Homo sapiens: one gene and its partners. The protein of the gene in region 1 purifies or fractionates together with the protein of each later gene. This does not show direct contact. Each region holds a gene or a part of one and is shown in the gene's direction. Other genes may lie near its edges. The genes, in order: GPR34, NDUFC2 and XPO4.

Region 1 (3,058 bases):
ACCTCTTGAACTTTCTTTCTTTCTTCCTTTTTTTATTTTAGAGACAGGTTCATGCTATGTTGCCTTGGCTGGCAGGCTGGTCTTGAACTCCTGGTCTCAAGTGATTCTCCAGCCTCAGTCTCCCAAAGTGTTGGGATTACAGGCGTGAGCCACTGTACCTGGCCAACCTTTTGATCTTTCATTACCTCTTTTGTGATACCTACCTCACAGAGTATTGCAAGAATTATGTAAAGGAAGTAATATAAATGTGTTTAACACAGTGTCTGGTACACAGAAAGTACTAAATAAATATTAGTTAATGGTTTGGCCATCTAGCTTAAGAGTTCAATTCTGACTGCACATTAAAATCCCCTAAGGAGCTTTTAAAGGAAACCAGTGCCTGAAACCCATTCCAGACCAATTAAATCAGAATATCTGGGGAAGGAGCCAAGCACTGGTATCTTTAAAAAACCCTCAAGAGGATTCTAATATGCAGCCAGGATTGAGAACCACTGATAATCCCTTCTACAAAGAACCCAATTGGTGGTAGTCTCAAAAATCTCCAGTGGTAAGATCCTTATATTGCCTCCCAAGAGAGATCATTTCATTAGAAAAAAATGATTTCCTTAAAAGGAGGCAACATCTGTCTCTGCAATTTCTATCATTGGTTCTTGTTTTGCTTTGTGAAGACACATATAACAAAGTGAAACCCTTTTCTCTATGGCTTTGTAAAGCATTCTCATCTCCAGGGTAACGTGCCTATTTCCTTCAACTTGCTTCTTTGACATGATTTGAGTTCTTCTCTCCATTTGGTCCATGGCCTTTTCTAAGTGTGCTGCTGTGGATCAAACACTGCATTCCAGGTGAGACCCTACCAGCCTGGGACAGAAGCAGCATAGTAGTAACAATTTTCATTTCAGACATCACGTATCTAGGAATTCAACTAAAGATGGGTTTTTCGTTGCCACCACACTACGCTAGTGATAGAGCAATTGCAATTGTGTTTGTTAATGCAGCTAAAGCTCTTCCTGTACTTGTACAGCTGCTTTTAATATCCACATGTAGAACTTCATATACATTTCTACTAAATTCCCTCTTTGATTTAATAATATTTATTATGCTAAGCATTAGGTACAGAGAGCCGAACAAAATTGACTTGGTTCTTAATCCTAATGGAACTTAAATTCTAACATGAGAGAAGAAAAAAAATCCAAAATAACTACTCACAGGTGAGTTTTTCACGTCATTTCAGCTACTTGAGCTCTCAAAATCACATTACTTCTTGTGCCTCAATTCCCTGAACCTATGAGAGCTCCCTACATAACCACACAATATAGGTGGTTCCTCTACAGACACCCTTTTCCTTTTCCTGGTAATGCAGGTTGCATTATCAGTTTCATTTTTGGTAGCCTGACATTCTTTCTAGATTGCCCTTTCCTTTTAGAATCTTAGATCACAGGTTGGGCATAGTGGCTCACACCTGTAATTCCAGCACTTTGGGAGGCCGAAGTGGGCAGATCACCTGAGGTCAGGAGTTCGAGACCAGCCTGGCCAACGTGGTGAAACCCCATCTCTACTAAAAATACAAAAATTAGCCGGGCATGGTGGCGGGCGCCTGTAATCCCAGCTACTCGGGAGGCTGAGGCAGGAGAATCGCTTGAAGCCAGGGGGCGGAGGTTGCAGTGAGCCGAGATCACGCCATTGCACTCTAGCCTGGGTGACAAGAGCAAAACTCTGTCTCAAAAACAAAACAAAACAAACAAACAAACAAAAACCAGAATCTTAGATCACAAGAAACATGCCTATACCTTTCTATAAACTTTCTGAAATTTGTCTTCCTGCAGTTGAGACACATGACAGACTAGACTCAGTCCTTCCCCGCTCCCTTCCTTTCTCCCTCCACTTTCCTGAATTCTGGAAACAGGCTCTTACCAGGGATTACATAACTTCCTCTTCACCAGCCAGTTCCTCTTCTGTGGAATCAATGCTCCCCAACTTTACAACATTTTAAATCTTAATGTTACCCTCTACCAAAATGCTTTGTTTTTAATCAAATTATGTGTAGAGCTTTAAGAAAGGCTATTTTTCTCTGTGTATAAGATCAAATCAGGGACTTAATTTATGTAATTCAAATCCACTTTGCATGGTAGCAGTCAGGGTTTGAATGTCCACTCCTCCAAAATGTTTACTAATAGGGTCTCTGTCTTATTCACCTTCCTTTCCCACACAGTACTTAGCCAAGTGTGAGATATTTACTAAAATGAGATTAATCAAAAGGTGTTTATTAAAGCTAACTTTTATTAAGCAGTCACTATGTGCCAGGATTAAGTTCTTCTTATGCATTTTTCATTTTCACAAATGAGAAAACTAAGGCATAGAAAAGATTAAGTTATTTGCCCTTGGTCACAAGTTAGTTGGGTCTGATTTTGAGAACCTTGCTCTGGGCATCTTTATGTTAACCCTGCTAAGTGGCTGCTGTAGAGAAATAGGGCAGTCACTCTATGAGAGGAATGTGATGAGACCTCCAGAAATGCTTTCTTTACTTGTTATGACCAGCTCTCAGACTAAGCTCTTTACAGCAGTCAATGGGCCAATAATAAGTAGCTTTGCAAATATTCTCTGCTGCCACAAACAAGTAGAATTCAAACACTATCTCTTCGAAGGTTCTAGCAAGTCTCAAATTATTGAACCCAGGGCACATTTAAGCTTTGGTCAGGTTACTTTCAAAATCTTGGATTGCACATGCTGTTTCCCATCTACGTTATTACTCTATGCTTCTAGGTTAGGAGTGGCTAACTGGCAGCTGCCAGCTAACTTGGTTTTGTTTGGTTACTTTTTTCTCCTGTCCAGTGATACAAGAGTCTGTGTAACCTTGCAGGTGCTGTATTCTCTTAGTCTATTATGTTAATTGCATGCCCTAAGACCCCTACCTTGGTCTTAGGCTGAAAAGAAATTTAGGATCCTCTTCTTTATTCCCACTTATAGAATGAGACCACCACAAGTCACACGCCATGTAGCAATACATGTCAAAATGAATGAATGCCACATATGAGGGAAAAAGTCAAGGCAGGAAGTGGTT
Region 2 (3,657 bases), on another chromosome or scaffold:
CCAAGTAGCTGAGACTACAGGCACCCGCCACCACCCCCAGCCAAATTTTGTATTTTTAGTAGAGACAGGGTTTCACCATGTTGGCCAGGCTGGTCTCGAACTCCTGACCTCAGGTGATCCACCTGTCTTGGCCTCCCAAAGTGCTGGGATTACAGGTGTGAGCCACTGCGTCCAGCCAAAAATGTAACTCTTAATACACATGGACTAATTTTTGCTTTCTTTGGGATTTGTCATTTGAATTTCAGGTTTGCATCGCCAGCTTCTATATATTACGGCCTTTTTTTTTGCTGGATATTATCTTGTAAAACGTGAAGACTACCTGTATGCTGTGAGGGACCGTGAAATGTTTGGATATATGAAATTACATCCAGAGGATTTTCCTGAAGAAGGTATTTCAAGTTAATTTTAGATAATCTGTGTTTACTGTATTATTATTTTCCCTGGTTAATCTTATCCATGTGTATGGCTTTAGATACCTTCTAAATTCTGTTGACTCCCACATCTTAGTCTATAGACCAAAATTCTCTTGAATTAATATATCCAGTTTCTGACTACCTCCGTGTCCTTTGGACAGCAAACAAAACTCATATCCCCTCTGCCTTCCCAAACCTCCTGCTCCTCTGTGTCCTGCTTCAGAGAATGGCACTACTGTCCACCTGGACACTCAAGCCAGAAGCCTGAGAATCATCAAGTCTTTCTCTTTCACTTCCCATTAGTCATCAGGTCTTATCAGTTCTACTTCCTAAATATTTCTTAACTTTGAACTCTCCTCTCCCACTACCACTACCCTGGTTCAGGCCTTGTTAATCTCTTGCTTGGACTGTTGCACTTGCCTCTTAACTCACCACTTGCTTTGGTCTTATTTCCAATGACAGCAAATCTGATCACATCTGTTTAAAATAGTCATCCGGCTGGTCGCAGTGGCTCACGCCTGTAATCCCAGCACTTTGGGGGGCCGAGCGGGGCAGATCACCTGAGGTCAGGAGTTTGAGACCAGCCTGGCCAACATGGCGAAACCCTGTCTCTATTAGAAATACAAAAATTAGCCGGGCATGATGGCGGGTGCCTGTAAGCCCAGCTACTTGGGAGGCTGAGGCAGGAGAATCGCTTGAACCTGGGAGGCGGAGGTTGCAGTGAGCTGAGATCGCGCCATTGCACTCCAGCCTGGGTGTCACAGCAAGACTGTGTCTCAAAAAATAAAATAAAATTAAAATAAAATAAATAAGTCATCCATTGCCTAGTGGATAAAATCCAGACTCCTTAGGATGGCTCATTTACTCCAGGTTAGCTAATTGCCTGTCCTCTGGTAGAAACACTTTACCCACATTCTTATCTACCATATGATATACACATGTGTGTGTTCTTCATGGATTGTAGCTTCGTCTTTGTTTCCCCAGCCTCTTGTATAGAGCCTACACATAGCAGGCACTTACTTATGCATAATAGTGGATATGAACCGTATGGAATACTTCCTCATTCCTCATCACTCATCATTTGCCTGGTGAAATGCTTTGTCCCGAACCTGCCCTATATTACTTTATACATGTTGTACCTTCTTCCTGCTATGTTATTCTTCCTCTTGCCCCTGTTTCCACCCCATCCACCTAGCAAATTTCTGCTTTTATTATCTCAGTGAAGCTTTCACCCAGCTACAGTCAGGCATTCCCTCAGGGTGCTCTATCTCTAGTCTGCTATGAATCTATTAATAGTTGTAATATAACTTTTCTCACCTGTGTTTTACACACATATACACAACACAGATGTGCACATATATGAGTATCTGTAGGCTGGGAGTTTAACTACTACGACAGTTTTTTTTGGTTTCCCCAGGGGTTTGGCACACATAGCCTTATTAAATGTGTAAATGAATGAGTATAGAAAAAATTTGAACTTGTAAACATAAATAGATTTTCCCCAGTCTCGGCAACATAGTGAGACCTCATCTCTACAGAAAATTAAAAAATTAGCTGGGTGAGGTGGCACATGCCTATAGACCCATTGACTTGGGAGGCTGAGGCAGGAGGATTACTTGAGCCTGGGAGGACAAGGTGCCGTGAGCCGTGATCACACCACTGCATTCCAGCCTAGGTGACAGAGCGAGACCCTGTCTCAAAAAAAAAAAAAAAAAAAAATTCTTCTGTTAATGTAAATGCGTGATATAAAACATTTAAATTTCATTACACTGAATGATCTCTAAGGTCTTATTTAGCTCTAAAATTTTATTACTCTTTAATATTCCCACAGCCTTCAGTCACATATATGATATTTATGGTGGATCAGAAAGATACAGTTTCTTTTTTTGCCAAAGAAGAGCTTAAAGACTAGCACAAAGCCATGAATAGTGGATGTATCGGGAATGCATAATACCCAGAACCGTTAAATGTTAGAGCTGGAAGTCATCTTGGATATATTGATTACTAGGAGTGAGGCCCAGTGGCTTGAGGAGTCTTCAGTCTCAGACCTCTGGCTCTTTGCCTAGACATAGTTCCATGAGTTCCCTGTGTCTGCAGGAGTGTGTATAGCTTCAGGGCTCATTCTCTTTCTGAGCTGCAGATTAGTGGCAGTTGTGCCAAGAGCCTCATGCACAGACAGTGGGAGCCCGGAGAGCTTGACCACATTGGCTGTTGGCCTCTCCTAGCTGACCTGTGCCCCTCTGTGTTTATTTCTTCCTTCACCTCTTCAGTCAGGATACTCCTGGCAGCACCTTGTCCCTCTTGGCAGTCATTTGGTTGTCATCACAGATTCCTCCAAAGTTATTCTTCAGTCAATGAAAGAAAATCCTTCAGTGATTACCAAGCCATAGTCAAGGACAAGAAAATAAGGAAATTCTTAGGGGTTTGTCTTAGTCCGTTTGGCCTACTATAACAAAATGCCTTAAACTGGGTAATTAAAAAAAATTTTTTAACTTTGTTTTTCTTACCACCTGTATAATTGCAGAATAGACTGGGTAATATATAAGTAATAGAAATTTATTGCTTGCAATTCTGGAGGCTGGGAAGTCCAAGATCAGGGTACCAGCACAGTTGGTGTCTGCTGAGGGCCCACTCTGCTTCATAGATGATGCCATCTTGCTGTGTCCTCACATGGTAGAAGAGGCAAACAAGGTCCCCTAAGCCGATCCCCCTCATGAGGACAGAGCCTTTGTGACCTAATCACCTCCCAAAGTCCTAACCTCTTAATATCGTTATCTTGGGGGTTACATTTCAATTTATGAACTTTGGGGGGACATGAACATTCAGACCACAGCAGGATTTCAATCATAAGATTAGTGAGTGTTAATTTTCGTTTAGGAAATACAATTTTTAAAACATATTTTTAAAATAAATCTTTTATGATCTTTCCTTTTATAGATAAGAAAACATATGGTGAAATTTTTGAAAAATTCCATCCAATACGTTGAAGTCTTCAAAATGCTTGCTCCAGTTTCACTGATACCTGCTGTTTCTGAATTTGATGGAACATGTTTCTTATGACAGTTGAAGCTTATGCTAATCTGTATGTTGACACCTTGTAATTAAAATACGTACCATGAGTACTCTGACTCTTTATTGTTGTAAGAAAAATAGTTCATCATCAGAGAATGGTCAGTTTCCATTCACCCATCTGAAAGATTTTAAGATGAGGTTGAATTCTAGTTTAGAGTTAGCAGACTACCCA
Region 3 (3,657 bases), on another chromosome or scaffold:
CTGAATTAAATGAAGGCTATGCTCCTTGGTCTGAAAGGTCAATCCGGTTAAGGTGGCAATTTCTCCCTCATTCATCTCTAAATTGAATATAATGTCAATCAAAATCTCTCTTTCCTCCTCACCCTTTTCTGAGGTGGGAGAAAAATTAATTGATTAGAAAATATATCTGGAAGTCTGTGAAGGGTTTGGGGACTTGATGTAGCAACTATTACAATGTATTCAGAAGCTAAAGTAATTGAAACATAGCATTGGCATAGGAAAAGAATAGAAAGTTAGAATAGTCTAGAAACAGAACTAAGAATAAAATGTTATTTCACATTGTAAAGGTATAGGGAAGTATGCTACAAGTTTTCGATACAAGAGCCTTCAATATATAGCTGACCCCCAGCTATTTCACTTCTGGCCATTTATTCAGTTTATGGAAATACTTGCTTATACACAAAGAATGTTTACTGTAGTGTACTTTGCTGTAGTGAAGATTGAAACAACGTAAATGTCCAGTTACACCAAATTGATTTAATATACTGGTATTCTTTATAATGGAATTTTATGGAACTCTTAAAAAATATGGTATATCTAAAATGTGATAGCTTTTTTTTTAAATGGGAAGATCTGAATGAACATGGAAAGATACTCAAAATAAGACGAAAAATTGCAGAATAGAATATATGATCCCATTTCTGTTTTCTAGAAAAAGTTCTGTATATATTTGTATATGCATAGAAACGGAAATGGAAGGCTTATACTAAACTTCTTTTTTTTTTTTTGAGACAGAGTCTTGCTCTGTCACCCAGGCTGGAGTGCAATGGTGCGATCTCGGCTCACTGCAACTTCTGCCTCTCAGGTTCAAGTGATTCTCCTTCCTCAGCCTCCCGAGTAGCTAGGATTACAGGCATGCACCACCACACCCAGCTAATTTTTGTGTTTGTAGTAGGGACAGGGTTTCACCTTGTTGGCCAGGCTGGTTTTGAACTTCTGATCACAGGTGATCTGCCAGCTTCAGCCTCCCAAAGTGCTAGGATTACAGCTGTGAGCCACTGTGCCTGGCCTATACTAAACTTCTAAGAATGGCTGCATAGGGAATGAGATTGCACATGGGAGGAGTGCTTAATATAGTTTTAATATAGTTTGAATTTTTTACAATATAAAAATTTAGACCATAAATTAATACTCCGTTTTAGTAAATTTGAATGTTGCATGCATTTCTATTTTCTTTTCTTTGAGATGGAGTCTCACTCTGTTGCCTAGGCTGGAGTGCAGTGGCGCAATCTCGGCTCCCTGCCACCCCTGCCTCCCGGGTTCAAGCAATTATCCTGCTTCAGCCTCTAGAGTAGCTGGGACTACAGGTGCACGCCACCATGCCTGGCTAATTTTGGTGTTTTTAGTAGAGACAGTATTTTACCATGTTGACCAGGCTGTTCTCAAACTCCTGACCTCAGGTGATCCGCTCGCCTCGGCCTTCCAGAATGCTGGGATTACAGGCGTGAGATACCACACCCAGCCTGAATGTTGCATGTGTTTTAAAAAAATCTACCTTTTTTTTTTTTTTTCTTTGAGATGAAGTTTCACTCTTGTTGCCCAGGCTGGAGTGCAATGGCGCCATCTCGGCTCACTGCAACCTACACCTCCTGGGTTCAAGTGATTCTCCTGCCTTAGCCTCCCCAGTAGCTGGGATTTACAGGTGCCTGCCATGATGCCTGGCTAATTTTTTGTATTTTTAGTAGAGACGGGGTTTTACCATGTTGGCCAGGCTGGTCTTGAACTCCTGACCCTCAGGTGATCCACCTGCCTTGGCCTCCCAAAGTGCTGGGATTATAGACGTGAGCCACCACACCCGGCCAAAAAAAAAATCTACTTTTAAAATCTACTTCCTTGAATGTCCTGCAATTATTTTTATGTTGAAGAATGTTCAAAGCTGTATCATGGTTCAGACTAAGACTAGGTTTGTGGTTTTGCATTTATAGACTTATAAATGCAAATGCAGGGCATTCCATTTCCACAGATTTGTTTAATCACTGCTAAGTATAATATAACCTTGTGAATAAATAAAAGGAAAAATGTCTTTTGAGTGAGAAAGAGCTAATAGAAAACTAATAAACTTTATTCTGAAAAAGAGATAGGGATTCACTCTTTCTCTGTTTGTAATTATGGGAAAAATTAGGTCCATTGTAATTTGACAATATTTTAGAGAAGGGTTTTTCAGAGTTTAGAACATGCATAACCAATCTTAGGGTGATTATTAAAACTGCAGATTTCTGGCTGGACACCGTGGCTTACACCTGTAATCCCAGCACTTTGGGAGGCTGAGGCGGGCAGATCACCTGAGGTTGGGAGTTCGAGACCAGCCTGACCAACATGGAGAAACCCTGTCTCTACTAAAAATACAAAATTAGCTGGTGTGGTGGCGCATGCCTGTATTCCCAGCTACTCGGGAGGCTGAGGCAGGAGAATCACTTGAACCCGGGAGGCGGAGAATGCAGTGAGCCAAGATCATGCCATTGCACTCCAGCCTGGGCAACAAGAGCGAACTCTGTTTCAAAAACAAAACAAAACAAAAAACTGCAGTTTCCTTTGCCTTACCTACGGAGGTTCTAATTTAGGAGGCCATGTTTCTTTCTTTTTTTTTTTTTTTGAGACAGAGTCTCACCCTGTCAGCCAGGAGTGCAGTGGCGCAATGCACGTTTAGGCTCATTGCAACCTCCGCAACCTCCGCCTCCCAGGTTCAAGCAATTCTCCTGACTTGGCCTCCTGTGTTCCTGGGATTACAGGCACGTGCCACCATGCCCGGCTAATTTTTGTATTTTTAGTAGAGACGGGGTTTCACCATGTGAGGGAGTTTCACCATGTTGGCTAGACTGGTCTCGAACTCCTGACCTCGTGATCCTCCCACCTCGGCCTCCCAAAGTGCTGGGATTACAGGCATGAGCCACCGTGCTTGGCCATGGAGACCGTGTTTCATTCCATATCCTCATCTTTTTTGTCTTTCTTAGTGGGTCTGAAGGGTCAGTATAGTGAGTGGGTGGCCTCTGCCTTGTATCCGAGCCATAAGACTGTTTCTGTCCACTGTCTTTGTTGTCCAGCCAGGGCTACCTACATAATTTGCAGGGCCCAGTGAAAATGAAAATGTAAGGCCTCTTGTTCACAAAAAGCAGGGGAAAAGTGCCATTAAGTGTTGTGAAATATAAAGCATTTTTCTTTAAAAATGTTTGCACCTTGTGAGGCTTTGGATAAGTTACTGCCTTTCCAGCTTCTGTTGACTCTTTTCCAGTCGCTTTTTCTCTTCATCAGCCACACTAGCTTTTTTGCAACCCTTCCCACTTGTGTCCTGTGTCCTGTCACAGGGCCTCTCATATACTAGTCCTTCTGTCTGGAATGCTTTTCTTCCCTGTCACTTCATCCTTCAGTTCTCTCAGTAGTCAGTTTCTCAGGGAAGCCTTCCTTAGCCTGCCTGAAAGGTGAGATTCACCTGTCCTTTTATAACAGTGTAGTTCTTTTATTTTTTTTTTTTTATTTTTTACTTTTTGGAGTTACTCTAAAACCCAGCTGGAATGCAGTGGTGTGATCATGACTCACTGCAGCCTCAAACTCCTGGGCTGAAGCGATCCTCCCCCTTTAGCCTCCCGAGTAGGTGGGACCACAGGTGCACGCCACCACACC

The links.
Region 2: the proteins of GPR34 (region 1) and NDUFC2 purify together in Homo sapiens (affinity purification with mass spectrometry; one large-scale study listed by BioGRID and IntAct). This does not show direct contact.
Region 3: the proteins of GPR34 (region 1) and XPO4 purify together in Homo sapiens (affinity purification with mass spectrometry; one large-scale study listed by BioGRID and IntAct). This does not show direct contact.

Annotation. Positions count from the first base shown.
Region 1 is NC_000023.11:41,691,895-41,694,952, forward strand, and holds part of GPR34 (probable G-protein coupled receptor 34), read left to right. Parts: intron 1-3,058.
Region 2 is NC_000011.10:78,069,730-78,073,386, reverse strand, and holds part of NDUFC2 (NADH dehydrogenase [ubiquinone] 1 subunit C2), read left to right. Parts: intron 1-245; coding exon 246-389; intron 390-3,350; coding exon 3,351-3,400; 3' UTR 3,401-3,476; coding exon of another isoform or gene 3,477-3,514; 3' UTR 3,515-3,657. Other genes in the region: NDUFC2-KCTD14 (NADH dehydrogenase [ubiquinone] 1 subunit C2, isoform 2), read left to right, coding at 246-389.
Region 3 is NC_000013.11:20,892,742-20,896,398, reverse strand, and holds part of XPO4 (exportin-4), read left to right. Parts: intron 1-3,657. UniProt on the Homo sapiens protein: Mediates the nuclear export of proteins (cargos), such as EIF5A, SMAD3 and isoform M2 of PKM (PKM2). In the nucleus binds cooperatively to its cargo and to the GTPase Ran in its active GTP-bound form.